7 linked regions of the Homo sapiens genome follow. The protein of the gene in region 1 purifies or fractionates together with the protein of each later gene. This does not show direct contact. Each region holds a gene or a part of one and is shown in the gene's direction. Other genes may lie near its edges. The genes, in order: SLC9A4, VRK2, FAF2, PON2, ADCY3, EMC1 and DNAJC18.

Region 1 (4,646 bases):
GTACAGGATCTCACATGCATGACCATCGATGCTTAAACAAACAAAACCCCACCTTGTTACCTGAGAGATACTAAAGCAAGAGTGCAGGACACCAGAGCAACCTTTTTCTCTGGGTTCAGGGCCCCAAGGCATCTGCCCATAGGGTGCTTCCCTCCACAGTGGGTCAGGGACTGCCACACACTTGGTGTGCTATGAGTCCAGACACAGACCTTATGGTGACCAGGTACTGACCATGCCCTTCAGTCCTCATGGTCAGTACCTGGTCACCATGGGGTCTGGGTCTGGACCAGACCCTCTGATCCCAGGATGCTTACTTCTCTCCCAAGAAGGTATAGGAAGGGATTGGTTGTTACCAAGACTCCTGGGTCACCTTCACATCAGCCACTGTGTTCCTGCACTCTTCCCATTGGAGGCCATAACAAACCAGTCTTACTGGCAATTTGAATGGAGGCTGGGTGAGAAGCAGACCTTAATCTCAAGCCTAACCTCAGTGGGGATACGAGAGTAACTTTGAAAGGTTGCTAATGGTCTATTTTATCATGAGAGGGGAAGGAAATACATGTTGGAGACTGGCGTGTTCTGCTTTCTCAAAACAAAAAAACTAAAAGCCAGTAATCCAAACAAGATGCCACAGAACAGGTCTGTGTTCTTCCCCTTATTTTATTATATTAGTTTTGAGACAGAGTCTCGCTCTGTCACCCAGACTGGAGTGCAGTGAGTGGCGCGATCTCAGCTCACTGAAACCTCTGTCTCCCGGGTTCATGCGATTCTCCTGCCTCAGCCTCCTGAGTAGCTGGGATTACAGGTGCCCGTCTCCACGCCCTGCTAATTTTTGTATTTTTAGTAGAGACGGGGTTTCACCATGTTGGCCAGGCTGGTCTTGAACCCCTGACCTCAGGTGATCCGCCCTCTTCTGCCTCCCAAAGTGCTGGGATTACAGGCGTGAGCCACAGTGTCTGGCCCTTTATTTGCCATGTGAAGCTCTTAATTGAGACAGCTTATTCTGCTTTTTCTTTCTACTTGCTACCCACAGGCTGGCACCAAGAATATCCGCTACCTCTCCTACCCCTACGGGAATCCTCAGTCTGCAGGAAGAGACACAAGGGCTGCTGGGTTCTCAGGTAAGCTGCCCACCTGGCTGCTCTGCTGCTTTTCTGTAGAGTCAGGTGGTAAATATCTGGGGGTGTGGGCCAAGAGGCAACATTAAGAACATTATGTAGGTTACTTACATGATAAGAAAAAGAAGAAAACAACTTCTTTTATAGTTGAAACTCGGAACTTTGTTTATGAACACTGAAATTTGAATTTCGTATAATTTTTACTTTTCATGAAATATTATCTTCTTTTAATTTTTTTCAGCCCCTTAAAAATGTACTAACCATTTGTAGTTGACATGCCATACACAAAGAGGAAGTAGGCCAGATAGAGACCAAGGGTCATAATTTGATCTCATCTTGAAGAAATGTGAAAGGAGTGTTTCATTGAAGTTCTAATATTCACCCACTATTTAAATATGAGCAGAGTTCTCCAAAGCTGGTTTAATTTCACTAAAATGATTTCACCAGATTTACTGATTAAATGTTTTCCATTTAATATTTAATTATTAAGTGGAATTCTTAGAATTATTGAAACTTTATTATTCTAATAAAAGCAGTTACTATTTTTATATGTGTATAAAATGATTTGCTATTAGCAAAAGGTGACATAATATATGTAATATGCCGTGTTATCTATTTTTATTTTCCTAATTTTTAAGTGTTAAAATCATGTTGGAAATTCACGTAAACTAAACATAAAGGATTTTAGTATTTAACCTTTAAGGAGTATATGTAATTACCTCAAAATGAAACTTTTTTTCTGATTTAAAAACATACTTGATACAAAGTCAAAATCATTCAGTAGAGAAAAGCATAAAAAAAGTTAAAAGCATTTGCAACCCTAATGCCAAGGTATGATCACCATAGAATGTTTTGGTGAGCACCCTTCTAGAATTCTTCCTATACCTGCCTGATCCCACACTACCCATACTGACACCTCCCTCCACAAAAAAATCACAAAAACATTGCATCATATGATACATAAAAGCAAAGTATAGTCATTGTTTTGCAATCTTTATAAATTGCCTAGTTCACTGAACAAATGTTGTACCTAGGTTTCCATGTCAATAGATGTGGATCTAATACTCATTTTTAATGAGTTAATAATAATTATATGCATGTACCAAAGCTTATTAAGCTAATTCCTAATTAATAAATACTTAAGGTATTATCAACTTTTAATAAATATAAACAATGATACATATTAAGGGCTCTGGACCACTTGTGATTGGTATTTTAACAAATAAGCAATTACTCCCTTAGTATATTTTCCTAGAAGTAAAATTTTGAGGTCAAATTCATATAGATTTAAATTTTTACATATATTGTCAAAACACCATCACAAAAGATTATATCACTAATTTGCCCTCACAACAACAGTCTGTAAGAATGATCTTTTCCTAATACCACTGGGATGTTGTCAAACTTTTGAGTAATCTGTGATATCGTAGCATAAAATTTATATGTCAGATTTAATTTTCATATGAATCTCTTTGATTTTTAGTGAAGTTGAACATCTTTCACATTTTGGAAACAATGATATTTCTTGGGGTGAAGTTTTCTGTTCCTGCCTTTGCTCGTTTTTTGTTTTGTTTTTTTCTATTTGGTTGTTGATTTTCTTGAGATGAATTTGAAGAACCCTATATAACAAGGATATCATCCATTTTATCTCCTATATGTTGCCAACGATTTTTTTATTTTTTTGAGATGAGTCTCTCTCTGTCACCCCGGCTGGAATGCAGTGGAGCGATCTTGGCTCACTGTAACCTCTGCCTCTTGAGTTCAAGCGATTCTCCTGGCTCAGCCTCCCGAGTAGCTGGAATTACAGGCATGTGCCACCACACCCGGCCAATTTTTGTATTTTCAGTGGAGACGGGGTTTCACCATGTTGGCCAGGCTAGTCTTGAACTCCTGACCTCAGGTGATCCCCCTGACTCAGCCTCCCAAAGTGCTGGGATTACAGGCGTGAGCCACCGAGTCTGGTCGATAGTTTAATTTTTTTAAACCATCTTCCTGGTACAAATAACCTGGCACTATTTTTGTTATTTGAGTGAGAAAACAAGAAAGTGTCACAGTTCTTTCTTTTTTTTTTTTAATTTAAATTTTTTTAGAAAAAAATCTTAAAAAGGGACAGGGTCTCCCTATGTTGCCCAGGCTGATCTCTAACTCCCGGGCACAAGGGATCCTCCTGCCTCGCCTCCTAACATGCTAGGATTATAGGTGTGAGCCACCATGCCTGGACGACAGTTATTTCTTAAGAGATGAGCATCAATACTGCATGCCTATGGTAGCAGGAGATGACCACGGAGCAGATTCATTTGAACAAATCTTAAATAAGCATTATAAACAAAATACAGCAAAACACTAAAGTACAATACACCTTGCAAAGTGGGGTTTATTCCAGAATTTGAGAGTTGTTTAACATTTGGAAACATACATATATTATTCACTAGACTGATAAATAGGTCACAGGATCCTAACCTTTTAATGGATGTCCTCACTAAAGGATATCTCAGTCACACTTTCAGTCAAAGCCATAAAATGCCAGGAAGAAATAGACAGGATATATATGAAGGAAAAATAAAATTCTACTTCTCCACACTGTCATTTCCGGTCTATAAAGAGGATGATATTGGTTCCCTCCATATGCAATTGTATTGTCCTGATGTGAAGCCAGTCTCATACATGCAGGATACGCATATGAACAGGTACATAAAGCTGCTAGAGCAGAGTCTGGAACCAAGTAGATGTGCAAGAAATATTAGTCATTATTACTATTACTACTTAGGGACTTAAAGAAGCCTTGACATGGGTAAATACAGATGTTCTTGGAAAGAAAGACAACACTTCACCATGTCAGTTCTACATGAATTACTTCAGACTTGGAATGAACTGTTAGTCCCAATGATTTCTTTTCTTTCAAATATACTCGACTGGTTCTAAGTTTCATCCAGGTGAACAAAGACAGTGGTTAAACTAGAAATCTGAGGGAAAAGTAATGAAATAGCACTTATGTTAGCAGTTTTCTTTAATAAGTTTTAAAGATGGGAAATCAGTGCTCTGCAATATGTTATGGGTCATATGTCTGCAGGATTTTAAATACTTGTTCTTATTTGTCATGGAAACTTATGCCTATTTATGCAGACTCATTTCTGGCTTGCTTGGAATTAACTCTACTGTGAATAATTTGTCATTTCTGTGGTTACGATTTATGAAAAATAATAAACCATGATACATTTAAAAAGGATTATAATAGTGATCAGGATAAGGCTGAGATAGTCCTCAATGTGTAATCAAGCACAATTGATCATTGGAATCCTTCTCTCCAAACCCAAAGTCTTTCTGCACCAGGAGAATGGCTGGAGGGGATCTAGGGGAGACAGTGGAGAGTCATGTTCTGCAGGCAAGCAGTCCCTGGCTAACCCACCTGAAACTTGGAGAATGCTTCCCTTCCTAGCTCTCCCCTTGCCCTCCAGGGTCAGGACTTTTCTTGTTCTGGATGTCTTGGAGCTCCATGCTGGTTTGGGGGACTTCACATGCTTTTCCAGG
Region 2 (4,646 bases), about 44 Mb from region 1:
AATGAAATATAGTAGACCATTCAGTAAAGGTATCATGTGTGAGTGGACCACAAGGAGAGTTTGCTGTGTATCACCTGGATGTATATGTTGGTATACAGTGAGTGTTGTATATGTTTATGTATACAGTTCTCAGTGCTTCTAGTAAGTGTTCTCTGTAAGAAAACTACTTTTATGTGTAAGACTGTATAGGGATAGTGGTACAATATGTCGTTTAAAAATTAGATTCTTCAAGTTTATTTAGTGTTTTCTGAGATTTTTAGTGGAAATCTGGTGCCTATGTTTTATAAAAAGTGATTCAAGTACTATTATATACTACATATATATGTTCATATTTTCACAGTTGAAATAACAATTCCATCTTTGGGATTATTTTTTTCTAGTAAAATTAATTATTCTTTTTTTTATAGGAATATCAAGAAAATGGCCCGTTATTTTCAGAACTTAAATTTTATCAGAGAGTTGCAAAAAAAGACTGTAGTAAGTAAAATTAGCAAAGCAAGCTACTTCCATATATGTGCTTGCTAAAGTGAGTGTTGATATTTTGGTCTTTTTCTGGCCTTCTGGAAAATTCTTTTCAATAGAAATTTTATTGTAAAGTGATACAGTTAACTGTTACAACATATAAAAGCAAGACAGATGGTATACAAATCTTGACATGACATACATAATGGGTTATATATTTTAAGTCAAAGTTGTTTCTACTACTTTACATAAAATGTTAGGTTGTTAATCTAAGCTACCAAGAGTTCCCTAAGTGTAAAAGATAGTAGAATGAAATTATTTCTTTTACAGTAAACCATTTGGATAGGACGGCTATAAGGAAAAAACATTAAAATGGGAAGTAGATATATGTATAAAAAAAGAACGATTGTAGAATGGATTGGGGCAAGGTGTGTGGAAATGTGAAAATGATTAAACTTTAAGATGTTTAAGAAAATGTTAGAAACTTGAATGCTGGAAAATTAATTGGAGCTGGATACCAAGTGTAAGAATGACCAGTTAGAAGACTTGAATGGGAAATGAATATAAGCAGAGAGGAAAAATAACAGCATTTTATAAATGTGATATAGATGGGCTAAGAAAAACATTAAAGAAGTAGACAGGAGTAATGACTGTATAGTCAAGGTCCTTTACATCATGTTTAAGAATAAGAGTGATGGGTCTGACCTCAATATTTAACTTAGTTTTTCTTAATAAAGTCTTCTAAACATTAAGACTGTAATCTTTACTAATTGCTTAAACTATGTCACAGTGACAAATAGAATCCATTAAACTTGATTGTTTATCAGTAGAGCTGTCTTAAACATAAAAAACATAGGCTAGAGTCATGAAAAAAATGATGAAAGTTAACTTTATTTAAGTGGATTTGATTTTTTGTAAACTAATCAAAACCAGTTTTTGTATAAAGTAATTTCAAAGTAAGATGGTTTTTCTGCCCAATTTCTGCTTTTTTTTTCTTTTTTTTTTTTTTTTGGTCCATTATGGTTTTAAATCTTGAAGTAATAGGGAAGAAAAAGCCATCTCTCTACTGATCTTTTGGTGGTTAACATATGTTATATTTAGAAATTTAGCTAGTATATAAGATAATGAATTCTTTTTATAGATTGAAACATTAATATATATGGTATCAATATACAAAGCCTATGACTTGTTTTTATTGATTTAATTTAAAAATTTCTAATTTTTTGTTAATTATAGTGGTAACAGTTTGAGGCCATTAGATAGAGATGTTTGATTGAAAAAAAATTATCTTCTAGGAAGATCTAATTACTTTTTTGGTTAGCTAAATAAATTTGTCTGTAGAAAGGTGACAAGTATCTTTTCAAATAACATGAATCTTTTTAAAAATAAATTTGTCTTTGTAGTCAAAAAGTGGATAGAACGCAAACAACTTGATTATTTAGGAATTCCTCTGTTTTATGGATCTGGTCTGACTGAATTCAAGGGAAGAAGGTAAAATGGAATTATTATAATCAAATATTTCTTTATAACTATTCCTTATGTGGTCTATGAGTTAACTATTGCCATGTAACAAATTACCAAAACATATTGGCATATAACCACAAACTTGTATTGTCTTAGTTTCTGTGAGTGAGGAGACTGCAAGTGGCTTATCTGTATGATTCTAGATCAGGATCTCTAATAAGGATATGTAGTCAGCTGTCTGCTGGGTTACATTCATTTCAAGGCTCATCTGGGGAAGTATTTGTTTTCAGGGTTCCTCATGTGGCTACTGGTAGGCCTAAGAAGATCTACTTCTAATTTACTTATGTGATTGTTGGCAGGCCTTCTTACTTCCTGATCATGTGGGTCTTTGCATAAGCTACCTGAGTGTTATGAAAAATAGCTGGCTTTCTCTAGAGCAATTAATTGGGGGACGGGGAGAGCATGCACACAAGTGCATTCAAGAAGGAAGTCATCGTTTTTTGTAATCTAATCTTAAAAGGGATATTATCGCTTCTGCTTTATTCTCTTTGCTAGAAGCTAGTCACTAGATAGATCCATTGGTCCTGAGAGAGGAGAATTCAGTTCTATCTCTTGAGGAGAAGCACAACAAATAAGTTATAGAAATATCTTTAAAACCACCAAATATGGCTAGTCCTATATATAATTTATTAATAGTGTTTGAAAAAAGAAAAAAAGTGTGTCATTTTATATTTACCCTTTTGTGCCAGAGACTTTTATATACTTTATCTTATTTTGTCCTTTGAATAGCCTGTTAAAATAGGTGATATTATTTTTATTCCATAGATGAGAGAATAAGCTCAGATGTCAGTACTTTGTTGAAATGGTCTCTAAATGCTTTAAATTTAAAAAAATGAGCAAACAGTAATCTTGAAGTAAAGGACTGCCACTGGGGGACTGAATGGCTGATTGAATCATGATACATCCATATCATGTCATATGTAGCCCATTAAAGAAGTCCATTAGAGCTATACTAGTTGCCTTAGAAGGATTTTGATGAGATACTATTGAAAAAAGTAAGATGGAGAAAATACTTATAATATGATCACATTTTTGTAAAACAAATTCCTAAGTGTGTGTGTTTGTGTATGCATGCATAGATATAGAATAGGGGCTGATGTGGATATATAAATGAAGGGAAGGAAAGAAGGTATGGAAGGTGCCAAACAGAACAGAAAAGGAAGAAGTGCACTTAAAGACATGTTTATAAATGTATAGAGACGGTATATATGATCTTATCAAGAAACAAACAAATATAAAATTCATGTGGCTGGGCACGGTGGCTCATGCCTGTAATCCCAGCACTTTGAGAGGCTAAGGCAGGCGGATCATGAGGTCAAGAGGTCGAGACCATCCTGGCCAACATGGTGAAACCCCGTCTCTACTAAAAATACAAAAATTAGCTGGGTGTGGTGGTGCATGCCTGCAGTCCCAGCTACTTGGGAGGCTGAGGCAGGAGAATCGCTTGAACCTGGGAGGTGGAGGTTGCAGTGAGCTGAGATTGCACCACTGCACTCCAGCCTGGTGACAGAGCGGGACTCTGTCTCAAAAAAAAAATCAAGTGTGTACAATAATTTGTTCAAGGCCATATGGCAAGAAAGTCATGGAGTCAAAATGAATTGCATTCAGTACTATCTAATTTAGAAAGATTTTTTCATTATGTAAAACAGTGTGAATGGTTCAGTACAGCATTCTCTTATAGAAAATCAGCTGCAAAGTAAATATTGAGCAGTTTCTGCAAAAGAATAGCAGAATTATGAACGTGCATTCATTCTCTAATGGTTTAGATTGCATTATACTTAGTTGTTAGGTTGAGCGTAATTTTTCTTGTTTCAAATTAAATAGACAGTTTCAAGCATTACTTTCTCAGGATGATCTCTTTTTGATGCTTTTTTCTTACAGTTACAGATTTATGGTAATGGAAAGACTAGGAATAGATTTACAGAAGATCTCAGGCCAGAATGGTACCTTTAAAAAGTCAACTGTCCTGCAATTAGGTATCCGAATGGTAAGAATTACTTATTTCGCATGCTCCATTTCCAAATTGTTTACTTCTTGCAATATAGAAATCTTTTCCCTTTGTGGAATTATTAGAGAATGAAGGATTATTGCCCTAGAGACATCAGTTATTAGGAGTAGAGGCTATTTTGGTGAAATTGATAACAATGGGCTCTGTAAGTGACAGAATGTGCTGTGTATGGCACTGCAAACTCAATTAGGCTTTGGTTCTCCAGTCTGATCTTCTTTTTCCTTAGAGCTTTGTTTTACATACCAGAACAAGCTTTCATTGCTGTAAGAATAACCTTTCTTTTGTCAGTTATAACAATGCAAATTATGGCAAAATATATTGTCAGACATTTTAAACATGTGATGGTAGGGGGGTGCTATGAAGTTTTTATTATGAGTTTGGGATGGTGGCAATAATTAGTTGTGACAATGAATAAAATATACTTTGCCAAAGCAGAAGCAACGAACTCTTAATAGCACTCAGGCACACATTTGTTTATACTACATATTTGTCTTATATGTTTGTATTTGGTTTGTTTAAGTCTCATTTTTTCACTTTTGAGTAGCATGAAGCTGCTTATGCCAGATTGGAATGCAGCAAATAGAATGCATTAATTTTCTCATTTATCCATCCTCGAAGCCAGCAAATGTTTATTGAGTACTAAGTGTATGTA
Region 3 (4,646 bases), on another chromosome or scaffold:
TGACCCCGTTGGGGACATTGTTTCATTTATGCACTCTTTTGAAGAGAAATATGGGAGGGCACACCCTGTCTTCTACCAGGGAACGTACAGCCAGGTCAGTGCCATAAACCATATAGATGCCAACTTACCGAAATGATTCTATCCTCAAAGGAGAGCACAGCCCAGCACTGATCATGTCCTTCTTGTACTCAAAAACCTTAATTAGCTCTTCACTGCTTATAGGGGTGGGTAATAAAAAAGACCAAACCTTTTAGCTGGCCCCTCTTTGATCTAATGCTGCCCTTCTTTTGAGGTCTTTTCTGCATAACTTATTTTACCATACCCTCAGTTCCAGCTGACTCATTCCCTGAACATAGTCTGTACTTGCCTACCTCTGTGCCTTTGCTTTTGCCGGTCCATCCACGTGGAATGCCTTCCTCACATTTTTGCTAATTGGAATCTTGCCAGTCCTTCAACTAGATTATGTCACGCCCCACTTACAGCTATCCCTGATTGTTGTGCCCTGTCCTGCCCTATCTCATCATCTAGAATACTAATCTTTCCCTTTGTTCTTCCATAGCTTTTAAAAATTGATAGCAATTTTATATTCTTTCCTATATCATTTGTGTTCGTGTCTAATCTCTGCTACCAGACTGAAAGCCCCTTGAAGGCAAAGCCTACATCTTCTTTGATCTCTCACAGAATTGAATAAGGACATAGACCATAGACTCAGGGTAGCACATCTCATTCAACCTCAGCCATGTAGACCTTTGACTCAAGACCTCACCATTCAGGGGAGGAAAAATTAGAGTTCTGTGGGTGTTTGGTATATCTCTAGTTTGCCAGAGAAATACATAGAATTAACACTACAGGAATAGGGAAAACTATGGGAATGCTGTGGCAATAGGCAAAAGGGGGTTCTATTATGCAGCCTCCAGAATTCCTGAATCTATCTGGAGAAAGAAAAATGCTCACCCTTGCTTCCTGCTTTCATTTTCCCACATCTGCTTTTTATCATAGTCAGTCTCCTCGCTGGCTGTTCCCACCACACTCAACAAAAACTGAGCACCTACTGTATGCCAGGCAATGTCCTCAGTGCTAGAGATACAGAGATGAGTGAGATGAGCACCTCCTGTGTACCCTCTCTGCTATGATCCTGAGGGTAGACCACCCTTGACCATGTCAGCAGTCGTACAGTGTAATGTGCTCAGGAGCACGCACATGCAGGAGCACGCACAGGAGTCTTCGGCGCTAGCCTTGTCTTTGAAAGTCTTTTACACCCTATGCTCTTTAGAATGCCTTTGGATCGTACAGTCCATCATTCCTACTCGATATGTGGCCTGGGATCAGGGTTGTCTTCGCAGTTATTTTTTACTTACAAGGATGTTGTAGCTGTGAAGTAGAAAAATTCTCACCTCCCTTTCATATGGTCAGATTCTCCTGTTTTTATCTTCCTTAGACTGTGGGTGCAGCTGACTTTTCTGTGGTTTGTTGGGAACCTGTGTTTGTAAGCCTGTCTACTCTCATGTGTCTGTTAAGTTTGAATCCTAACAACACTAAAACCTTTTCATTAAAGCTTGTTAGCGTGGAGTTTCTATAGGGAGAACAATGCCAGGGGTGTGAAGGTAGGAGCTCAGGAATTTTCTGATTTCTTGCTCACCTTTTTTCCTTATTTTTCCTTTTGTTCCTAAATACATAACTGTATCCATTAGGACCCTTAGCTTAAATATAAGCTCAAGGCACAGTCTTCTTAATAGTGAGTGACCTTCTCTTTCTCACAGGCACTTAACGATGCCAAAAGGGAGCTTCGCTTTCTTTTGGTTTATCTTCATGGAGATGATCACCAGGACTCTGATGAGTTTTGTCGGTAAGTGGATTGATTATTTTCCTTCTCTTTTCTGACTCTTTCTGGTGACAGTTTATAGTCAGCAAGTTGTTCTCATATCCTTTTCATACCTTTCCACAGCAACACACTCTGTGCACCTGAAGTTATTTCACTAATAAACACTAGGATGCTCTTCTGGGCATGCTCTACAAACAAACCTGAGGGATACAGGGGTAAGTTATGTTTCTTCTGCCTCATTGAGATTGTTGGAGTATCTTTGGAATAGTCTGGAAAGACATGCCATGCCATTTATTACAAGTGTGTTTGTTCTGTGGTAGATACGACGCTAGTTGCTATTTTATATTGTCTCATTTAATCCTCTCAGCAGTCCTGAGAGATGGGGGGTCATATTACCTTTGCTTTATGGTTTAGGAAATAGGCTCAGAGAGTTCAAGCCACTGGCTGAAGATCACACAATTAGCAAGTTTTATTTTTTTTGTTTTTATTTAATTAATTAAAAAAATTTTTTTGAGATGGAGTCTTGCTCTGTCGCCCAGGCTGGAGTGCAGTGGTGCGATCTTGGCTCACTGCAACCTCCACCTCCTGGGTTCAAGCGATTGTCCTGCCTCAGCCTCCTGAGTAGCTGGAACTACAGGCATGCACCACCACGCCCAGCTAATTTTTTTGTATTTTTAGTAGAGATGGGGTTTCACCATGTAGCCTCAAACTCCTGGACTCAAGTGAGCAGCCCACCTCAGCCTCCCAAAGTGCTGGGATTACAGGTGTGAGCCACTGTGCCCCGCCATAATTAGCAAGTTGTAGCGTACAGTCGGGTCTGCCAGATTCTAAAGCCCGTTCTTCACATTCAGCATTGCCAAAGCCTGCCACATTCATAGAAATACCCAGTCTTGGCTAGCAGCTTGCTTTTAATCTTAATGGGCTTTTTACTGAAGAGTTTATTCTTTTCATCAACGATTTTAACAGAGCCCTTGCATAGTGAGTCAGTTGTTTGAGTACCTTGAGTGCTGATATGGATTTGGAAAGTTCAGATCTTTGCTGACAATAACTCTTCTTTGGAGATAAGTATTTTTAGACGGTTAGTAAAAGATACGAAGGCATCCAGTGAGGAAAAATGTAGTCATTTTTGTGGCTACTTCTATCCAGCAACTTTTGAGTTTATATTAGCATGCCACATACTGTGCCATGTCTTGAGAACCAAAGATGTGGCAGATGTTGTCCCTGCATCCCAGAGTCTGAATCTTAAGCCTAATTGTTTTTAAACATCCAAATTCCTGCATGCGTTTTGCCATTCTAATATGGCTTTGCAGGGGGCAGAAGGGAGGTTGTGAATAGAAGGAAGGTAAGGATTTTTTTTTAATAGAAGTTTATAAAATCTCTTATTTCACACCATAAGGAAAACATAGGTAAAACTCTGTTATGGTAAAAATCTTGGTCATTTGGACACCAATTTTTTTTTTTTTTTTTTTGAGACCAAGTTTTACTCTGTCACCCAGGTTGGAGTGCAGTGGTGCGATCTCAGTTCACTGCAGCCTCCACCTCCCGGGTTCAAGCGATTCTCCTGCCTCAGCCTCTCGCCTATCTGGAATTACAGGCGCGTACCACCACACCCTGCTAATTTTTGTATTTTTTGTAGAGATGGGGTTTCATTATGTTGGCCAGGCTGGTCTCAAACCCCTGACCTCAAGTGATCCAACCACCTCCGCCTCCCAAAAGTGCTAGGATTAAAGGTGGAGCTACCAGCCCAGCCTCAACTTTCTATTAATAAGCTTCTTTGGAACAGAAAAACTAACCTTTTTAAGGGTGGAGAAAAGTTACGTGGGGAGAAAGGATAAGGAAAGGATTAGGCAAGAGAAAAAAAAATGATGATGGAGATTATTATCAGTATCATCAGGCTGAGACTTGCAGCCTTGTGCCCTTTTAGGTTTGAGCCCTTGTACAGGGAAAAACTGTGCCAGATTCTTTATAGATCCTTTTTGTACCATCAAGTAGACATTATCCTTAAACTCTGCAGCCTTCCCTGGCATCATCACAACAACCACACCGCCACCAGGAAAGCCTGTCCTATTCTAGTCAAGCACCTAGGGATAGGCATGCAAATTGATAACAAAAACAAAAGATTACAAAACTGGGAGGAACTGGGCATGGTGGCACACTCCTGTAATCCCTGCTTCTCAGGAGGCTGAGGTGGGAGGGTCACTTGAGCCCAGGAGCTGGAGACCAGCCTGAGCAACATAGTGAGACCCTGGCTCAAAAAAAGAAAAGAAAGAAACTAGGAGGCGGGGAAAAAGCGGAGACTAAATGATACCTCTCGTCTTCCCCAACCAGGATTAAAACAGTTCTCTCTCACTCATTGTGGAAAGTCTAAGGGTTGATCTTTTTCACCGTCAAGTCCTGCCCTTGATCTGTTGGGTCTTTTTATCAGTCTCACAGGCTTTACGAGAGAACACCTATCCATTCCTGGCCATGATTATGCTGAAGGATCGAAGGATGACTGTGGTGGGACGGCTAGAAGGCCTCATTCAACCTGATGACCTCATTAACCAACTGACATTTATCATGGATGCTAACCAGACTTACCTGGTGTCAGAACGCCTAGAAAGGTACAAGGGAGTTCCCTTCTGGAACAGAGAGAGACCAGTTGTAAATTTGGAGGGCTGACCTCTGGGGCTCTACCAATCCTGACTTCTTCTGTGCATCAGGCCGCTATTAGCTTTTAGCTTTGCCCATTTATTGTCAAAATATTTACATACTTTGACCTAAATTACTCTATATCAGGTAATCTGTTCTTAGAGATGTTCAAAATAAAGACAAGGGCTGGGTG
Region 4 (4,646 bases), on another chromosome or scaffold:
TATTGGAAGGACAGAAAACCAAACACCACATGTTCTCACTTATAGGTGGGAATTGAACAATGAGAACACTTGGATACAGGAAGGGGAACATCACACACCGGGGCCTCTTGTGGGGTAGGGGGAGGGGGGAGGGATAGCATTAGGAGATATACCTAATGTAAATGACGAGTTAATGGGTGCAGCAGACCAACATGGCACATGTATACATATGTAACAAACCTGCACGTTGTGCACATGTACCCTAGAACTTAAAGTATAAAAAAAAAAAAAAGTTCATGCTTTGTGGACAGGTAGCCTGAGTTCATTCATAGCTCTACTATTTACCTGAAACCTTGGACTAATTATTTCACTTTTCTGTGCCCCAGTGTTGTAATCTGTAGGATGGGGTACTGCCTGCTCCACAGTGGGACTATGAGAATGCTTAAAATAATGCCAAGCGCACAGTCAGCTCAATAAATGTCATCTATGTAGACAATGAAATTCAAGCATAATTCCTTAAACCTTTGTGCCATACATCCCTTTGGCAGTCTGGTAAAGCCTTCATTCCTTCTCAGCATCATGTTTTTAAATGAGTAAAATAAAATATATAGGATTACACAGGAAACCAATTAAATACTGCTACCAAGCTATTTAAAAATCTATGATATAATATGCTTTTTAAATTAAACCCTTAAATGGATCTAGAGGTAGGTAAATGTCTAACAGCAGATATTTTGAAGTTGCAATGAATGTAAATGGCACTTTGAGCTATCTACAACTGAAATGCGATAGAAAAGTATCTATAATTTCTATTAGTGACAGTCACAAATACTACTAATAGTATTGTGGTTTGTTGCTTATACTCATCATCAAAGGAAATACTCAATTTGAGTTAAAGGTTTAAATAAAGATGTATTTTTCCCCCATCCAAGTTCATGGATCCCTGAATTCTACCCATGGATTCCTTGGTCACTGGACTCCATAGGGGTCACTTGGGGAATGATTGTGACACCAATGAAGGAAGCCAGCGGATACTGTTTGCTGTATTATACCTACCATAGGCTCGTGATGAGGAAATAATAAAATAAATAACTGTAATGAAAAAGAAAAGAAAGGAAAACAAAAGGAACCTAAAACAGAGAAGGCAAATAGCTTTCCTTTTGAGTGTCAATTTTAACAGACTCCCTGTGGTTGCGAAACAATGTGTCTGAGGCTGGCTCTGGGTTAGAGGGAGAGTGCTGTTATTGATTAGCAATTCCTGCATGACAGCAGAGTGGCAACAGCCATGCATCTCTGACCTGGCACAGTCATAAGCATGTTATAGACATAAAGTGTTAGGGAACAAATAGGCTCTAGCAAAAGTAAAGAGTGTTCCTCCTCTCATATCATCACTTATATGTGTTTATACCATTTATGTTGTATTTTTTACATGAATACTTTTAGATTTATTAATCTAATCCAAAAAGGTTTGTATAGCTTTCTCTATATTAAGAGAAATATATGTATTTCTTAAATACACAAAGTTCTTAAATCTGATGCCAGCGAGGATTGCTTCCAGCCACAAGTAACATATATCAGATTAATAGTAGTTCATTCAAAGAGGGATTTATTTTCCTCACATGAAAAACAGCTCTGTGGGTGACCCAATATAGAGCTTGTTCATTGAGCCAGTGATTATATCAAGGAACTGGGTTCTTCATATATTTTCATTCTTTGATCTCCCCCTATTGACTTTATAGCTGTATCTTTCTCAAGGATGCAGAATGGCTGCCGCAGTCTCAAACACTGCGTGTGTGTTCAAATCATGAAGAAAGGAGATTGAGTGATGCCAGCTAGCTCTCTTCTCGTGACTCTCCTTTGTATCTAGAACACAGTGTCTTTCCCCAAAACCTGGGTCATATGACTACACCTCAATACAGCGGAGTCTGGGAAAGCAAATATTTGCTTTGCCCACCACTACAATAGAAACGACAAGGGAGAAAGAAAGGGGGTTGGGCATGGCGTTAATTTTGTCAGCCGCTAGGGTCTGCCACCCAGAAAACAGAAGTCCACTAACAAGCAGGGAACTGATTGTTCTGCCAGGGAAAAAGTCTGGCAGTTTCCTACTGAAGAAATTTGGAAGTCTTGATGGTCCAGGAAGGATAAAGGCAAAACCTTCATTTTCTTTTATCAAAAAGGAAAGCCAAGAAAAAAATTAGTTAAGTAGAAGTTATGCACAACCCTCATGTAACTCTTCCATGTTAATAGCAGGTAGGCTGCATATGAAAACATGATATTATACAAGAAAACTAGTTGATGAAGATTGCCCTATTTAGCACCAATTACTTACGCAAACCTAAGTTGACTCTGAAACAGGAACCCCATATTAAACTTTTCAAACACATCAGAATATGTTACTTTGAACAGATTTTATTTAATCCAAAGAGATTATCTTTGAAAAAGGTAGATGGTAAACATCGTTATCCCTATTTTTGTATAGTCAAATAGGCATAGTAGTAAGTTGTGTAAAATTGACATCCAAACCAATGCATGATACTAAAACTTGGTGTACAAACAGCAGTTACATCCTATTGCTTTGTATCTACATCTGTTTCTGGAGTCATATAACATTTGTAGAATCTTGGAGGTGTTTTAGGCTCATCCTTATTTTATCCATAAAGAAGACTGACACCTATAGAGATTAACTGACCTGCCAAGGGTCATGGCAGTTTCACTGCTGAGACAAGAACACAGATCCCTTTACTTCTTTCTGAGAAAAGTACAAAGTAGTTTAAAGCAAAAGCTTCCCTGCTTCCAGCACTTCTGGCTAAGTTGCGCCGTGGGAAAATTGTTTTGTCTGATTCAGTTTTCTCATCTTTTAAACTGGAATAATGCTACCTAATTTACAGGGTTGTTTGAAGAATTAAATGAATGCATGGAGGTAAATCACTTAGAACAGCGGTAAATTATACTTTTTTATTATTTATTTCCTTTGACCACCCACAATTATCATCAGTGTCATCCTCATCATCACAATTAAGATTACTACCACATTAGGCTACATAAACTTTTTTTTTCTCTCTCTGTTTTATAATTTCAATTTTATTTTAGATTCAAGGGGTACATGTGCAGGTTTTACATGGGTATATTGTCTGATGCTGAGGTTTGGGGAACAACTGATGCCATCACCCAGGTAGTGAGTATAGTACCCTATAGTTTTTCAGCCCTTGTCTACTCCCTTCCCTTCCCCTTCTAGTAGTCCCCAGTGTCTACCATCGTCATCTTTATGTCCATGTGCACCATTGTTTAGCTCCCAGTTAAAGTGAGAACATGCAGTATTTGGTTTTCTAGCTTATTTTTCCTCTCTTAAATCACTTCTGTGACACGTAGGCCATGAGATTTATTGTATTTTTTAATGCCTTATTTAAAAATTTGTATTATTTAATACATTTAATGCATTATTTTTTATTATATTTAAATATTGATTTATTTGTACTTTTTGCCTTATTGCTATATTGTTTCAAAAAATTTAACATTATTTGAGTTACATGATTTCAAATACATACTGATTAACATTTTAATTAGAAACTTTATGTCTGATATGAATTGCCAAAATGTGTAGTTGGTACAACCTATGAGTCATTCTGGGTTATCTAGAAGAAACTGGTAGCCTGCCCCATACTCCAGAAGCCTTCCCCAGTGTCTAGACCTCAGAAGCTGTCAGGAATATGCACAGGAGAAGGACACATGGCAAATAGCTATTTCGTCTCTTAAATGTATGGTATGTGGGAACCACTGAAAAATGTAAAGTTTCTACAAGGTGCTATTTTTATTATTTATGGCTCTAGAGAACAGAGAAGGTGAAAAATGTGAGAGAGAAGGGAAAGCCAATAGTATGTGGCCTTCAAAACAAAAGATCCCACAGATATTGTCCCAAACTGCTTCCTGGCCCTCTAGAGTGGAGAGGGAGGGGGAAGACATCCTATTAGAGTTCAACATTCTCTTATTATTTCCTTCTTTTAATTTTCTGGGTATACAACAGCAAATAGTTTTGCTGAAGTAGTTACAGAACTAGTTGGTGTTCTCCAACCTTCCTATTCCAATACATACTGTCATGGATGGGTACACTAAAATCTCAGAATTCACTGCTATATCACTCATCCATGTAACCAAAAACCACATGTACCCCCAAAAGCTATTGAAATAAGATAAATACATTCTTATTTAAAAAAATACTGTCATAGGGATGCTACCTTCTTTTCTTTTTTGTTAGTAACTATTTGTGGGATGTCTTTGGTGTGTCAGGCTCTGAGCAATGCCATTTTCTCTTGGCTTCTTTGCAGTCTCTGTGTGAGGCTTACAGTCATTTTTCACGTTTGACTCTTCAGAAGGAAGACAGGGCTACTGGTTCTACATCTGGAACTCTTTTCCCACAACACCAACACTGAGAAATGTGACATGGTGCTGTGTTTACATTTGCATAGGAACTTGCATTATAAGTTTTATTTGTTGAGTTATTGGCTTTTTTTTTTTAATAACCCACATCAGTATATAGAACTTTGCAATAGGCATTTTTGTTTTAACTTCATTTCTGGTGCAGTTTTATTTTCCTACCCTTGTCTTTCTATTTTCTCTTTCATCTGCTTTAGACTTAAACTGTGTTTTATGTATTGCTGTAAGCCTCTTTA
Region 5 (4,646 bases), about 78 Mb from region 1:
CCCAGGGCTCATTTGTCTGTGTTCCATGGAGCACTGATTGCTGCTCCATGGGTCCCCCATCCCAAGAGGCAACACAGGCCCAGAGCAGCCGGAAGGGAGGACAGATGGATCAGGAGGAGCCGAGGCTGGCAGTGTTTGCCCATTTCGCTCCCCTGGCCTGGGTCCTGCCCCAGGACCTGTTACGGAATTACTTGCCCTTTACTGCCCTAAACTGCCCCTGGGCTGGGTGAGGAGGAAGGAGGGGACTGGGCTCAGGACCAGGACCTGCAGGACCAGCGGCCAATGAGTGCGGACAATGGGGAAGGCAGCCAGGATGGTTGGGGGTGGTGGTGGGCGGGGCGTGCCTTTAGCATTTGGCAAAGTAGGGACTAGGAACTGCTGACAAATATTTTGTACCCTTACTTCAGAGCAGAAAGGCTATTTGGGAGCAAAATTCTCTCATGGAATGAAGAGCCTGTTAAGACCTTTTTTCACCAAGTAAAACATGAGGAAGCTGTGGATGTGCAGTTTCTTTCACACCTGCAAATTACACAGCAATCATTCACCCAGCAAAGGAACATTTGCTCCTAGGGGCTGGAGGGAGCTGCCGTAGGGAGGGTGAGAGGAAACTGAGGCTTCCAGAGACACCCTGTCTGCAGACGGCAGGTAGCTGTTGCATGCACCTCATCCCATTTAATCCTGGATGTTACTGGCTCCATTTCACAGATAAGGGGACTGAGGCTCAGTGAGGTTGAGAGGAGGTAGTGGGGCTGGATTACAGGGGAGGGGTCACTGATGAGTGAGAAAGGTGGGTTGGGGGACTTCCCTGAAAGCCTCTCTTTCTCTGGAACCCAGGCATCTGGGCCTCCTACTTTTCTGGCTGCCCCCAAATGTCTTTGCTAAGCAACGTAGCTGAACAGTGCCAAGAGATGGCAGTCCCTAAGGTATAACAGGAGGCACCCCCTTCTCCCCATGGGAATTGGATGCAAAGAAGGGAGAAGCCCATGACGATGTTCCCTGTGGGCACGTGGCCAGGAGTACTTGAGAAAGGCAGGGGGCTGAATCGGGACAGGAGCTGGTGTGAGGTGCGGTGGGCAGGAAGCAGCAGGCCTGGGGGCTTTCAGCCTTCAGGAAGCAGGCTGCAGGGAGAGGTGTGCAGGACACAGAGCAAGAGGAGGCAAACTCAAGCCAGTCCTGGCTCTTTGGCCCTGGGCTCCTCCACTGACCCGGGACGGGAAAGAAGCCGTCATCCCTCCGTGGAGAGTATGCAGATGGGCATCAGTGGAGGGTCCAGGGACCAGAACAATGATGACGTGCGTAGAAGGGGACTGCAGGGCCATCAGATTCAGCTGCATGTGAGGAGGAATAATCAGTCATTGAACATGTAAACAACTTTGCAGAAAATCAACCCCTCCATCCTTTCCCTGTCGCAGCTTTCTGTGGCCTTTTCTGACCCCGATCTGTGTATAAACAGAGCTTTCCCAGTTTGTCATCATCATGCATATGCAATTTAGGCCCCACCTTTCATCCACATTATTTCCCTGACATTTTGCTGTGAACACTGGACTCCTCGTGTTTATTATTTTAAATCAGCGCTTTATAGTCAGCGAGTTTTTCTAGAGAGGAAACGGAAGCCCAGGGCTGGGCCAGGGGTGGGTAACTGGGTAGTTTTATATGCACATGCAGGCACACACACACACACACACATGCACACACACACACACATGCACACACACACACACATGCACACACACACACACATGCGTGCTCACTCCTGGGCTTGGTCTGCCCAGCCTTCTGGGTAAACCCTCCGTCAGATGGAATGGCTGGGATGCCAGGGTTATTGGCATTCTGCAGTTTCTTCATAAACAAACAGCAAATCCCACGAGGGTGGTCTAATGCTGGGTAAATATTCCAACACCACCCTCTGCCCCTGGCTGCCCCCCCACCAAATTACACATTCTTTTTGTTTTTTCTTTTTTTCTTTTTCTTCTTCCTTTTTTTTTTTTTCAAATAGAGACAGAGTTTCACCATGTTGCCCAGGCTGGGCCTGAACTCCTGAGCTCAGGCGGTTCACCCACCTCGGCCTCCTAAAGTGCTGGATTACAGGTGTGAGCCACCATGCCCAGCCATCACCAAATTACACGTTCTTGATAATAGATTCCACGGGTATGTGCTATCACCAACACGGAGACTCAGAGACACATTGTGCGTAGGTCGAGGCCCATGAGCAGGGACAGTGAGGAGGTGGCTGTGTTTACTGAGCTCTTGCTCTGTTACAGTTTAGTGCCTTCTGGCAAGAGGCAAATATTATTTCCATTTTACAGATCAGGAAACTGAAATGGGTGACAACTGAAATGACTTGTCCAGGGCCACATGCCTAGTAAGAGGCAGAGCAGGATTGGAGCCCAGGTCAGTAGGATTTTGGAGTTCCTTCTCACTGGAGTCATAAAAGAACCCATTAGGCGGTGACCAGTAGCTCATGCCTGGAATCCCAGCACTTTGGGAGGCTGAGGCAGGAATATCACTTGAGGCCAGGAGTTCAAGACCAGCCTGGGCAACATAATGAGACCCCATCTTCATACACACACACACACACACGTACACAACCACCAAAAAAAATTCAGCTGGGCTTGGTGGTGTGTGTGTGTGTGTTTTTTTTTTTTTTTTTTTTTGAGTCTGTCTCCCAGGCTGGAGTGCAATGATGCTATCTTGGCTCACTGCAGCCTCCGCTTCCCAGGTTCAAGCAATTCTCCTGCCTCAGCCTCCCAAGTAGCTGGGATTTCAGGCACCCACCACCATGCCTGGCTAATTTTTTTTGTATTTTTAGTAGAGACAGGTTTTCACCACAGTAACCAGGCTGGTCTCGAACTCCTGACCTCAGGTGATCCACCTGCCTCGGCCTACCAAAGTGCTGGGATTACAGGCATGAACCACAGCGCCCAGGCTGATGGTGTGTGTCTTGTACAGGAGGCTGGGGAGGGGGATGGCTTGAGCCCAGGAGTTTGAAGTTACAGTGAGCTCTGATCATACCACCCCACTGCAGCCTGGGGAACAGTGAGACCCCATCTCAAAAAAAAAAAAAAAAAAAAAAAGAACCCTTATATCTTCCCTCGGAGCCTGTTGAGATAGTTCCAACGGGGTTAGGGTTTTGGTTTCTCAACCCACAAGCATTAGAAGGAGCAATTTGGGGGATGAGGAGGTGTTTTTGGGGGCATCTTCAAGGAACAGAGATGTCTGGGGTGTTGAGTGTTGCAACCAACAGCCCTCATATGCACCTTCTCTGGCTGTAGGAGGCGTTGTTACATTATAGGACAGCATAGTAACTGATGTGCATAATGGTGACCAACTCATCAAGAAAATATTAAGGCCAGGCGCGGTGGCTCACACCTGTAATCCCGGCACTTTGGAAGGCCGAGGTGGGTGGATCACGAGGTCAGGAGATCGAGACCATCCTGGCCAACATGGTGAAACCCTATCTCTATTAAAATACAAAAAATCAGCCGGGCGTGGTGATGCACGCCTGTAGTCCCAGCTACTGGGGAGGCTGAGGCAGGAGAATTGCTTGAACTTGGGAGGCAGAGAGTGCAGTGAGCTGAGATTGTGCCTGGTGACAGAGGGAGACTCTGTCTCACAAAAAAAAAAAAAAAAGAAAAGAAAAGAAAGGAAATATTAAATTGCATTTAGCATAAAGTGTAGTGTAGTATCTAAAAACATTTTCCTCGGGAATGGATAACACAAGTTTGAACAAATAAGGATTATATTTGGAAATTCAGTAATGTGGGATGGCTCATTACTCAGTGTTACTGAGTATATGTCCATTTATTCACCATGTGTTTTAGTTATCCACTGCTGTGTAACAAACAGCCCCAAAATTTGGAGGCTTAAAAGAGTAACAGTTTAAACCTGGGCAACATGGCAAAACTCTTGTCTCTACAAATGGTACAAAAATCAGCCAGGCATGGTAGCATGTGCCAGTAGTCCCAGCTACTCAGAAGGCTGAGGTGGGAGGATTATGAGCCCCGGATGCTGCAATGAGCCATGATCGTGACACTGCACTCCAGCCTGGGTGACAGAGCAAGACCGGTCTCAAAAAAGAATAAAAAAAGAATGACAGTTTATTGTTTCTCATGATCCTGTGGGTTGACTGTTCAGCTGGGTGGTTTTTGTGCTTCACGTGGCATGGGCTGGGGTCACTCATTTGTCCACCTGCGCTGTTTCATTCACCTGCAGCATTCAGTTGCCAGCTATGCTGGCAAGTTCTAAGAAGCCTTTACTCATGTCTGGAGCCTCAGAGCTCCTCCTCCTGACCTCTCCATGTGGCTAACTTGGGCTTCCTCACAGCATGGTGGTCTCAGAGAGAAGGTGGAAGCTATCACAGTTTTTAAAGGTTAGGCTCATCACTATCGGCTACAAGAAGTCCAGGCTAACTCAGATGCAAGAGGAAATTGATTCTATCTTTTGATGTTTGAGTAGCGTGTGTAAGGGAGGGAATGAATTGATAGCAGCTGTCTTCTGAGGCTGTCTGAGAAACCAGGAGGCACATGGGGGATGCTGGGGAGACGGAACTAATTAAAGCCATGAGATTGGGTAGGGTCCAAAATACTCTGTGACCACAGAATGCTTCAAAAGTTAGAAATGTGGCCCAGAGCCCAGTGTTTTTAACT
Region 6 (3,829 bases), on another chromosome or scaffold:
ATTGAGTGACTGAATGTCTAAGAATCTCCAGAAAAAAACAGGCATCTATCATCCTGACCCAAGGCATATTTTAACATAACCTGGGAGAAGAGAGTTAAGTACAAGTTAAAAAAAATTCTGCCCTAGTTTTGAGAAAGCCTGGCTGGAATTCTGACTGTCTTACATACATATGTGCAAGGTTAGCCTGCAAGATTCTAGTTTTTATTTACCAGTGTGCCAGAATCTGAAACAAGCTACTGGGAGGGAAGGTATTTGTCCTTTAGTAAAATTCCCTGTATTTCAGCTGTAATCAAAGTTACCTCAAAGCAGGTGCTTTTTTTTTTTTTGAGACAGAATCTCACTCTGTTGCCCAGGCTGGAGTGCAGTGGCACGATCTTGGCTCACGGCAACCTCCACCTCACAAGCAGCTGGGACTATAGGCATGTGCCACCACGCTCAGCTAATTTTTTGTATTTTTAGTAGAGACGGGGTTTCATTGTGTTGGCCAGGCTGGTCTCGAACTCCTGGCCTCAAGTGATCTGCTGGCCTTGGCCTCCCAAAGTGCTGGGATTACAGGTGTGAGCCACCGAGCTTGGCCAAGTGCTTAAAATAGTTAATGCTAATGCCACAGTCCAATTTAAATCTTTTCTTAGTTCTCAACTTTCCTTAATCTTAAAGCAGCATTCGGTTCTGAGCAGCTACACTCAGTCTCCACTAATGGCTGCTGAGACTATGTTTCCTCTCTCAATTCTCTGATCTATTTGCTTTCTTGTCATTCCTTGTTTTTTGTGTGTATTCCTTGACTTACCTCTTCTCCTGTCTTCATTAATTAGGTTAATTTTGGGGCCCCATGGTGTTTCACGTAAAAAGATTTGGCTGGGCGTGATGGCTCATGCCTATAATCCCAGCACTTTGGGAGGCCATAGTGGAGGATCTCTTGAGCCCAGGAGTTCCAGACCAGCCTGGGCAACATAGCAAGACTCTATCTACAAAAAATAAAAAAAAATTAGCCGGGCCTGGTGGCATGTGCCTGTGGTCCTAGCTACTCAGGAGGCTGAGGTAGGAGGATCACTTGAGCCTGGGAGGTCGAGGCTGCAGTGAGCCATGAACATGCTACTGCATTCCAGCCTGGGCAACAGAGTGAGACCCTGGCTCAAAAACAAAAACAAAAACTAGTTTGTTTTAGTATTCATTAATTACGTATATGAGCACTGGTAGTCTAGTGTTTGTTCTTGTATACAGTGTTTTCTTAAATGAGATGATGCTATTTAATTCTGTTACTTGTTTTTTCAACTAATGGATCTTTTAAAGTTTTTTATTTAAATTTTTTGTGGGTACATATTAGGTACATATACTTATGGGGTACATGAGATGTTTTTATAAAGGCTCAGCTAATGTATCTTGAATATCATGTATTCATAAAGATGACTGAAATAGTTTCTGGAACAAAGTCTGATAGAAAAAATACTCAATTCCTAATTTAAGTGTTAGAGACTTTAATGTAAGCTATCTAATCTGAACTAGTTTCATTATTTGTGTGTGGGTACATGTTATGTGCTCCGTAAGGCATCTTTCAATTTGAAAATTTCATAATTGTAATTTCACTGCCTTTATAAATTGCTTTTTTTTTGGAGGCAGGGTCTCTGTCACCCAGGCTGGAGAGCAGTGGCACAGTCATAGCTCACTGCAGCCTCGAACACCTGGGCTGAAGTGATCCTCCCTCCTTAGCCTCCCAAAGTGCCGGGATTACAGGCATGAGCTACTGCACCTGGCCCATAAATTGTCATACTTTTAAAGAGCCTATTACACAAAGTATCATCAGAATCATCCCAAGACTCATTTCCTGATTCCTAATTATTTAAAATTTTGCTTTTAGGCGAGGCATGGTGGCTCAAGCCTATAATCCCAGCACTTTGGGAGGCCAAGGCAGGCAGATCATTTGAGGTCAGGAGTTTAAGACCAGCCTGGCCAACATGGTGAAACCTGAAACCCCATCTCTACCAAAAAAATAAAAAAATTTAGCCAGGTGTGGTGGTGCATGCCTGTAATCCCAGCTACTTGGGAGGCTGAGGCAGGAGAATCGAACCCAGGAGGCAAAGGCTGCAGTAAGCCGAGATCATGCCTCTGCACTCCAGTCTGGGCAACACAGTGAGACCCTGTCTCAAAAATAAATAAAATGAAAAAATTGCTTTTAAATCATGAAACCATTCTGTTTTCTTTACTTGGAATGTTTTCTTCCCTGCTTAAAATCTGGCTTGTCTCAAATCTGAACTCCTCCATAAAGTCTTCCCTATTGGTTTCAGCTACTCAGGACCTTCAACCATCCTGGCTGCTTACCACGTAACTTCCTGAGTGATATACCACACCCCTTTATTATTTCAGATATTGTGTCTCTTAGGGACTGTTTTCTGAATTACCTATTGTCCCAGACATGAAGTTGCTCCTTGACAAATAGTTCCCCAAATGGCTGTACCTTCTTCTCCAGAACCCTTAGGAACTTTGTCCTCAGTTTCCCAAATTTCTAAGACTTCGGTGACTTAGTAAAGGATTTTTTTCCTTTTTTTGAGACAGAGTCTCATTCTGTCTCCCAGGCTGGAGTGCAGTGCCTTGATCTCGACTCACTGCAGTTTCCACCTCCCGGGTTCAAGAAATCCTCCTGCCTCAGCCTTCCGAGTAGCTGGGACTCCAGGAGTGTGCTACCACACCCAACTAATTTTTGTATTTTTAGTAAAGACAGGGTTTCACCATGTTGGCCAGGCTGGTCTCGAACTCCTGACTTCAGGTGGTCTGCCTGTGTGGCCTCCCAGAGTGCTGAGATTATAGGCGTGAGCCACCGTGCCTGGCCCCAATAATTCTTTTTTTTTTTTTTTTTTTTTTTTGAGACAGAGTCTCACTCTGTTGCCCAGGCTGGAGTGCAGTGGCGCAATCTCGGCTCACCACAACCTCTGCCTCCCTGGTTCAAGCGATTCTCCTGCCTCAGCCTCCCGAGTAGCTGGGGCTCAGGCGTGCGCCACCATGCCCGGCTAATTTTTGTATATTTATGGAAATGCCAAGAGATAGTTCAATCTGCCTCTCTGGCAAGCCATGGACACCAGGTCTGACAAACTCTCTTACTCCTTAAGACAAATGCTCACCTGATCAATATGGGGAAATAAGCTGCATGGTACCATAATTTCTATTCTAAAAGGGAAAAGTATCTCTTTGGTATTGCTTTGGAAAACATTCTTTATAACTATCTTGCTATTTAAAAATTGACAATTATCCTTCCATAATTAAAACAGGTAGACAACATCCTGTGCTCTTTCATTTTTTTGTAAAATGTAACAAACTATTCAGCATTCTTGAAGCAACCTTTCAATAATGGAGATACTGGTGCTTCATATCAATCAGCTGTTTTGATTTTGTGGCTAAGTTCTTTATTTTAAAAAGACTATGTAAGTAAAAAAAATTTTTTAACAATATCCCCAAATTAAGGTGAGTGTTGCCTTCAAAACCTCCCCCACCATGTTTCCCAGAGGTCACCACTGAACAATTTGGTATCTCTCCAGGTAATACAATCTTCTGCAGCTTGGTTTTATCACTTAGTCTATCGTGGAGAGTGCCTATGTGAGAGGTAATGGATCTACACCATTCTTAGTGGTCACACGGTTGAAATTCTTAAGTGCTGTTCCATTAGAGATTTTTATGAGACTCAATACTCTTTCGGGAAAGTCTAATATTTAGGTCACCTTTCCAGTAAGAAATTTGTAACATAAAGGATGTGTACACACCCACCTTCCCATTTTTTTTTAGGAATCAGAGTGTGAAGTTAGTTGAGACTGACCTCCAACGAAGAAGCCTGTTTTCCACC
Region 7 (4,646 bases), on another chromosome or scaffold:
GCAGCAGAAACCGACTAGACACAACACACATCTACAGGACATTCTTTCAACAACAACAGAACGATTTTCTTCTTAAGGATACATAGAATATTCTCCAGGATAGACCATATCTTAGGTCATAAAACAAGCCTCAATAAATTTAAAAAGATTGAAATCATACAGTGTATGTTCTCTGAAATCAAAAACAAAGGGAAATTTGAGAAATTCACAAATATGTGGAAATTAAACTACAAGCTCCTAATAAGCAAGCAAGTCACAGAATAAATCACTAGGAAAGCTAGAAAATGCTTTGAGATGAGTGAAAATGAAAACACGACGTACTAAAATGTATAGGATGCAGCTAAAACAGTGCTTAGAAGGAAATTTATAGCTCTAAATGCTTATTTTTTTAAAAAAGACTCCAAATCAGTAACCTAATCTACCTTAAGGAACTAGACAGCCTGGACAATACAGTGAAACCCCCTCTCTTCCAAAAAATATATATATACAAAAATTAGCTTGGTATGATGGCACCAACCTGTAGTCCCAGCTACTTGAGAGGCTGAGGCAGGAGGATTGCTTGAACCCAGTAGGTTGAAGCTACAGTGAGTCATAATCGCACAGCAGAGCAAGACCCTGTCTCTCAAAAAAAAAAAAAAAAAAAAAAAAGAAAGAGGGATATCCCTACCAATCCAAATACTATGAACAATTGTGTGCCAACAAATTAGATAACCTAGATAAAATCAGCAAATGCCTAGAAAGACACAAATTACTGAAACTGACCCAAGAAAAATGGAGGCCAGGCATGGTGGGTCACACCTGTAATCCCAGAGCTTTGGGGGTGCTGAGGCAGGAGGATTGCTTGAGACCAGGAGTTTGAGACCAGCCTGGGCAACACAGCAATACATTATCTCTAAAAAAAGAAAAAAAAAATACTTGGGCATGGTGGCACATGCCTGTGGTCCCAGCTACTTTGGAGACTGAAGCAGGAGAATCACTTGAGCCTAGGAATCTGAGGTTACAGTAAGCTATGGTAGTGCCACTGCATTGCAGCTTCGGTGACAGAGACCTTATTTCCAAAAAAGAAAAAGAAAAAAAAAAGGAAAACCCAAGTAGACCTACAACAAATAAGGTGATTTAATTAACAATCAAAAAAATTCTAGCTGGACATGGTGACTCATGCCTGTAATCCCATTACTTTGGGAGGCTGAGGTGGGAGGATCACTTGAGCCCAGGAGTTCAAGACCAGCCTGGCCAACATGGCGAAACTTCATTAGTACAATAAAAAACAAACAAAAAGACCCCACAAAAATTAGCCGAGCATGGTGGTGCACACCTGCAGTTCCAGCTGCTCAGGAGGCTGAGGTAGGAGGATTGATGGAGCCAGGAAGGGCGAGGCTACAGTGAGCACCACTGCACTCTAGTCTGGGTGACAGAGGGAGACCTTGTCTGAAAAAAAAAAAAAAAAAAAAAAAAAAACTTCCAATGAAGAAAAGTCCAGGCCCAGCTGGCTTCATTCTTTGAGACCAGTATTAACTCTGTAACCAAAACCAGACAAAAATATCATAAGAAGTCTAAATTATCAACCAATATCCCTTATGGATATAGATTTTAAAATATTCAATAAAATACTAGTAAAACAAATACAGCAATGTAAAAAGTATTATATATTTTCACCAAGTGGGATTTATCCCAGTATTGCAGGATTGTTTAACACACACAAGTCAATCAATGTAACATACCATGTTAATAGAATAAAGGACAAAAATCACACGATCATTTCAATAGGTACAGAAAAAGCATTTAACAAAATCCAACACTCTTTTTTTTTTGAGACGGATTCTTGCTCTGTCACCCAGGCTGGAGTGCAATGCCACGATCTCGGCTCACTGCAACCCCTGCCTCCCAGGTTCAAGCGATTCTCTGGCCTCAGCTTCCTGAGTAGCTGTGACTACAGACGCGCACCACCATGCCTAGCTAATTTTTGTATTTTTAGTAGAGACGGGGTTTCACCATGTTGGCCAGGATGGTCTCGTGACCTTGTGATCTGCCCGCCTCGGCCTCCCAAAGTGCTGGGATTACAGGTGTGAGCCACTGCGCCCAGCCCCAACACTCTTTCATAATAAAAACACTTAACTAGGAATAGAAGGGAACTTCCTCGACCTGATAAAGTCCATCTACAGAAATCCACAGTTAACATCATACTTAAAGGTGAACAACTAGGTGTTTTCCCACCAAGATCAGGAACAAGACAAGTATGTCTGTTCACTCTTGCCACTCTGTTCAACATTGTACTAGAGGGTCAAGCCAGGGCATTTAAGCAAGAAAAAGAAATAAAAGCCATCCAAATTGGAAAGAAGAGTAAAACTACATCCACAGATGACATGATCTTGTAAATGGAAAATCCTAATGAATACACACACACACACACACACAAATACTGTTAGAACTAATAAACAAGTTGGACAAAGTTACAGGATATAAGATCAATATACAAAAATTATCATTTTTCTATATACTAGCAATGAACAATAAAAAAATGAAATTAAGAAAATATAGTTGAGGCTGGGTGTGGTGGCTCATGCCTGTAATTCAAAACTTTGGGAGGCTGAGATAGGAGGATCTCTTGAAGCTAGGAGTTCAAGACGAGCCTGAGCGACATAGCGAGGCCCTGTCTCTACTAAAAATAAAAATTTAGCCAGGTGTGGTGGCATGCACCCAAAATCCCAGCTACTCAGAAGGCTGAGGTAGGTGGATCCCTTGAGCCCAGGAGTTCGAGGCTGAGGTGAGCTATGATCACCCTACTGCAATCCAGCCTGGGTGACAAAGCAAGACCCTGTCTCTATATACAAATAAATAAATAAATAGTTTTAAAAAAGAGATACAGTTGGCCTTTGAACAACACAGGTTTGAGTGGCATCAGTTTGAACCATGGATTTTTATATGTCAATTTTAAAAGATAAATACATTGGAAAAATTTTTTAGATTTGCAACAATTTGAAAAAGTGGCTCACATCTGTAATCTCAGCACTTTAGGAGGCCAAGGCAGGAAGAATACTTGGGCTCAGAAGTTTGAGACCAGCCTGGGCAACACGGCAAAACTCCGTCTCTACTAAAAATACAAAACTAGTCAGGCGTGGTGGCGCACACCTGTAATCCCAGCTACTTGGGAGGCTGAGGCGGGAGAATTGTTTGAACCCAGAAGGCAGAGGTTGCAGTGAGCTGTGATTGTGCCATTGCACTCCAGCCTGGGCAACAAGAGCGAAACTCTGTCTCAAATAATAATCATCATCATCACCATCTCACAAACCATGGAGCATGGACATACCAAAAAATTAAGAAAATTATATGAATGCATAAAATATATCTAGATTCTAGTCTATTTTATCATTTACTATCATAAAATATACACAAATCTATTATAAAAAGTGAAAATCTATCAAAACATATGCTCACAAACACTTGAGACTACATGGTACCATTTGCATTTGAGAAAAATGTAAACATACAGGTGCAGTATTAATCACACCTGCATAAAATTAACAGTAGTACTGTACTACTGTAATAATTTTGTAGTTAGCTCCTGTTATTTTGCTGAGCCTCAAGTATTGGGAGTATCTGCTTAAAATGCCACATGATGCTAATCATCTCTTTGTGAGCAGTTTGTCTCTTGAGTAAATTATGTATAGCAGTAAAAAGTGATCTCTTGCAGTTCTCCAGTTTTGTTTTTTTTTTTTTTTGAGATGGAGTTTTGCTCTTGTCGCCCAAGCCGGAGTGCAGTGGCACGATCTTGGCTCACTGCAACCTCCACCTCCCAGGTTCAAGCGATTGTCCTGCCTCAGCCTCCCAAGTAGCTGGGATTACAGGCGCCCACCATCATGCCCAGCTAATTTTTGTATTTTTAGTAGAGATGGGGTTTCACCATGTTAGCCAGGCTGGTCTTAAACTCCTGGCCTTGTGATCCACCTGCACTTAATGCCAGCAGGTAAGAAAACATTGCACTTTTTGCAAAATACCTTTTCATCTCATATTGAAAATGAAGCTTTTATATGGGTGCAGGACTGCTATAAGAAAGGCATACAGTCCATGATGTGATTATTACTTATCGCATGCCTGAGCTCAAGGCTTCCACTCACCTCAGTCTCTCAAAGTGCTGGGATTACAGGTGTGAACCCTGCGGCCAGCCCTACCTCATCAACTTTTTAGTGCAGACAAAAGTGCCCTATTCTGGAAAAGAAATGTCACAAAGGACATTGTACTAGTAAGGATGAGAAGTGAGCATCAGGATATAAGGCAGGAAGGGATAGGCTAACTCTGCTATTTTGTGCAAATGCAGTTCAGTTTATGATGGGGGCTGCCATTATATATAAAGTTGCTAACCCCTGAGCCTTGAATGGAAAAGATGAACACCAGCTGCCAGCCTTTTGGTTGTACAGCAAGAAGGCCTGGGCACTGAGAGCCCTTTTTCTGGACTGGCTCCATTGATATTTTCTTCGTGAAGTCAGGAAGTACTTTGCCATTAAGGGACTGCCTTTAAAAAGTTCTTTTGGATTAACTCAGGGTTATGGTGCATGCCTGTAGTCTCAGCTACTTGGGAGGCTGAGGCAGGAGAATTACTTGAGCCCAGGAGTTGGAGGCTGCAGTGAGCTATGATCGTGCCACTGCAC

The links.
Region 2: the proteins of SLC9A4 (region 1) and VRK2 purify together in Homo sapiens (affinity purification with mass spectrometry; one large-scale study listed by BioGRID and IntAct). This does not show direct contact.
Region 3: the proteins of SLC9A4 (region 1) and FAF2 purify together in Homo sapiens (affinity purification with mass spectrometry; one large-scale study listed by BioGRID and IntAct). This does not show direct contact.
Region 4: the proteins of SLC9A4 (region 1) and PON2 purify together in Homo sapiens (affinity purification with mass spectrometry; one large-scale study listed by BioGRID and IntAct). This does not show direct contact.
Region 5: the proteins of SLC9A4 (region 1) and ADCY3 purify together in Homo sapiens (affinity purification with mass spectrometry; one large-scale study listed by BioGRID and IntAct). This does not show direct contact.
Region 6: the proteins of SLC9A4 (region 1) and EMC1 purify together in Homo sapiens (affinity purification with mass spectrometry; one large-scale study listed by BioGRID and IntAct). This does not show direct contact.
Region 7: the proteins of SLC9A4 (region 1) and DNAJC18 purify together in Homo sapiens (affinity purification with mass spectrometry; one large-scale study listed by BioGRID and IntAct). This does not show direct contact.

What each region holds. Positions count from the first base shown.
Region 1 is NC_000002.12:102,525,226-102,529,871, forward strand, and holds part of SLC9A4 (sodium/hydrogen exchanger 4 precursor), read left to right. Parts: intron 1-1,033; coding exon 1,034-1,121; intron 1,122-4,646. UniProt on the Homo sapiens protein: Electroneutral antiporter that exchanges sodium for protons or ammonium ions at the basolateral membrane of epithelia to regulate cell volume and intracellular pH upon hypertonic conditions.
Region 2 is NC_000002.12:58,084,474-58,089,119, forward strand, and holds part of VRK2 (serine/threonine-protein kinase VRK2), read left to right. Parts: intron 1-407; coding exon 408-477; exon of another isoform or gene 478-526; intron 527-1,865; coding exon 1,866-1,953; intron 1,954-3,867; coding exon 3,868-3,973; intron 3,974-4,646. UniProt on the Homo sapiens protein: Serine/threonine kinase that regulates several signal transduction pathways.
Region 3 is NC_000005.10:176,492,239-176,496,884, forward strand, and holds part of FAF2 (FAS-associated factor 2), read left to right. Parts: coding exon 1-94; intron 95-1,760; coding exon 1,761-1,846; intron 1,847-1,945; coding exon 1,946-2,037; intron 2,038-4,247; coding exon 4,248-4,425; intron 4,426-4,646. UniProt on the Homo sapiens protein: Plays an important role in endoplasmic reticulum-associated degradation (ERAD) that mediates ubiquitin-dependent degradation of misfolded endoplasmic reticulum proteins.
Region 4 is NC_000007.14:95,424,661-95,429,306, reverse strand, and holds part of PON2 (serum paraoxonase/arylesterase 2), read left to right. Parts: intron 1-4,646. UniProt on the Homo sapiens protein: Capable of hydrolyzing lactones and a number of aromatic carboxylic acid esters. Has antioxidant activity. Is not associated with high density lipoprotein.
Region 5 is NC_000002.12:24,909,646-24,914,291, reverse strand, and holds part of ADCY3 (adenylate cyclase type 3), read left to right. Parts: intron 1-4,646.
Region 6 is NC_000001.11:19,214,014-19,217,842, reverse strand, and holds the end of EMC1 (ER membrane protein complex subunit 1 isoform 1 precursor), read left to right. Parts: 3' UTR 1-2,183; downstream 2,184-3,829. UniProt on the Homo sapiens protein: Part of the endoplasmic reticulum membrane protein complex (EMC) that enables the energy-independent insertion into endoplasmic reticulum membranes of newly synthesized membrane proteins.
Region 7 is NC_000005.10:139,432,518-139,437,163, reverse strand, and holds part of DNAJC18 (dnaJ homolog subfamily C member 18), read left to right. Parts: intron 1-4,646.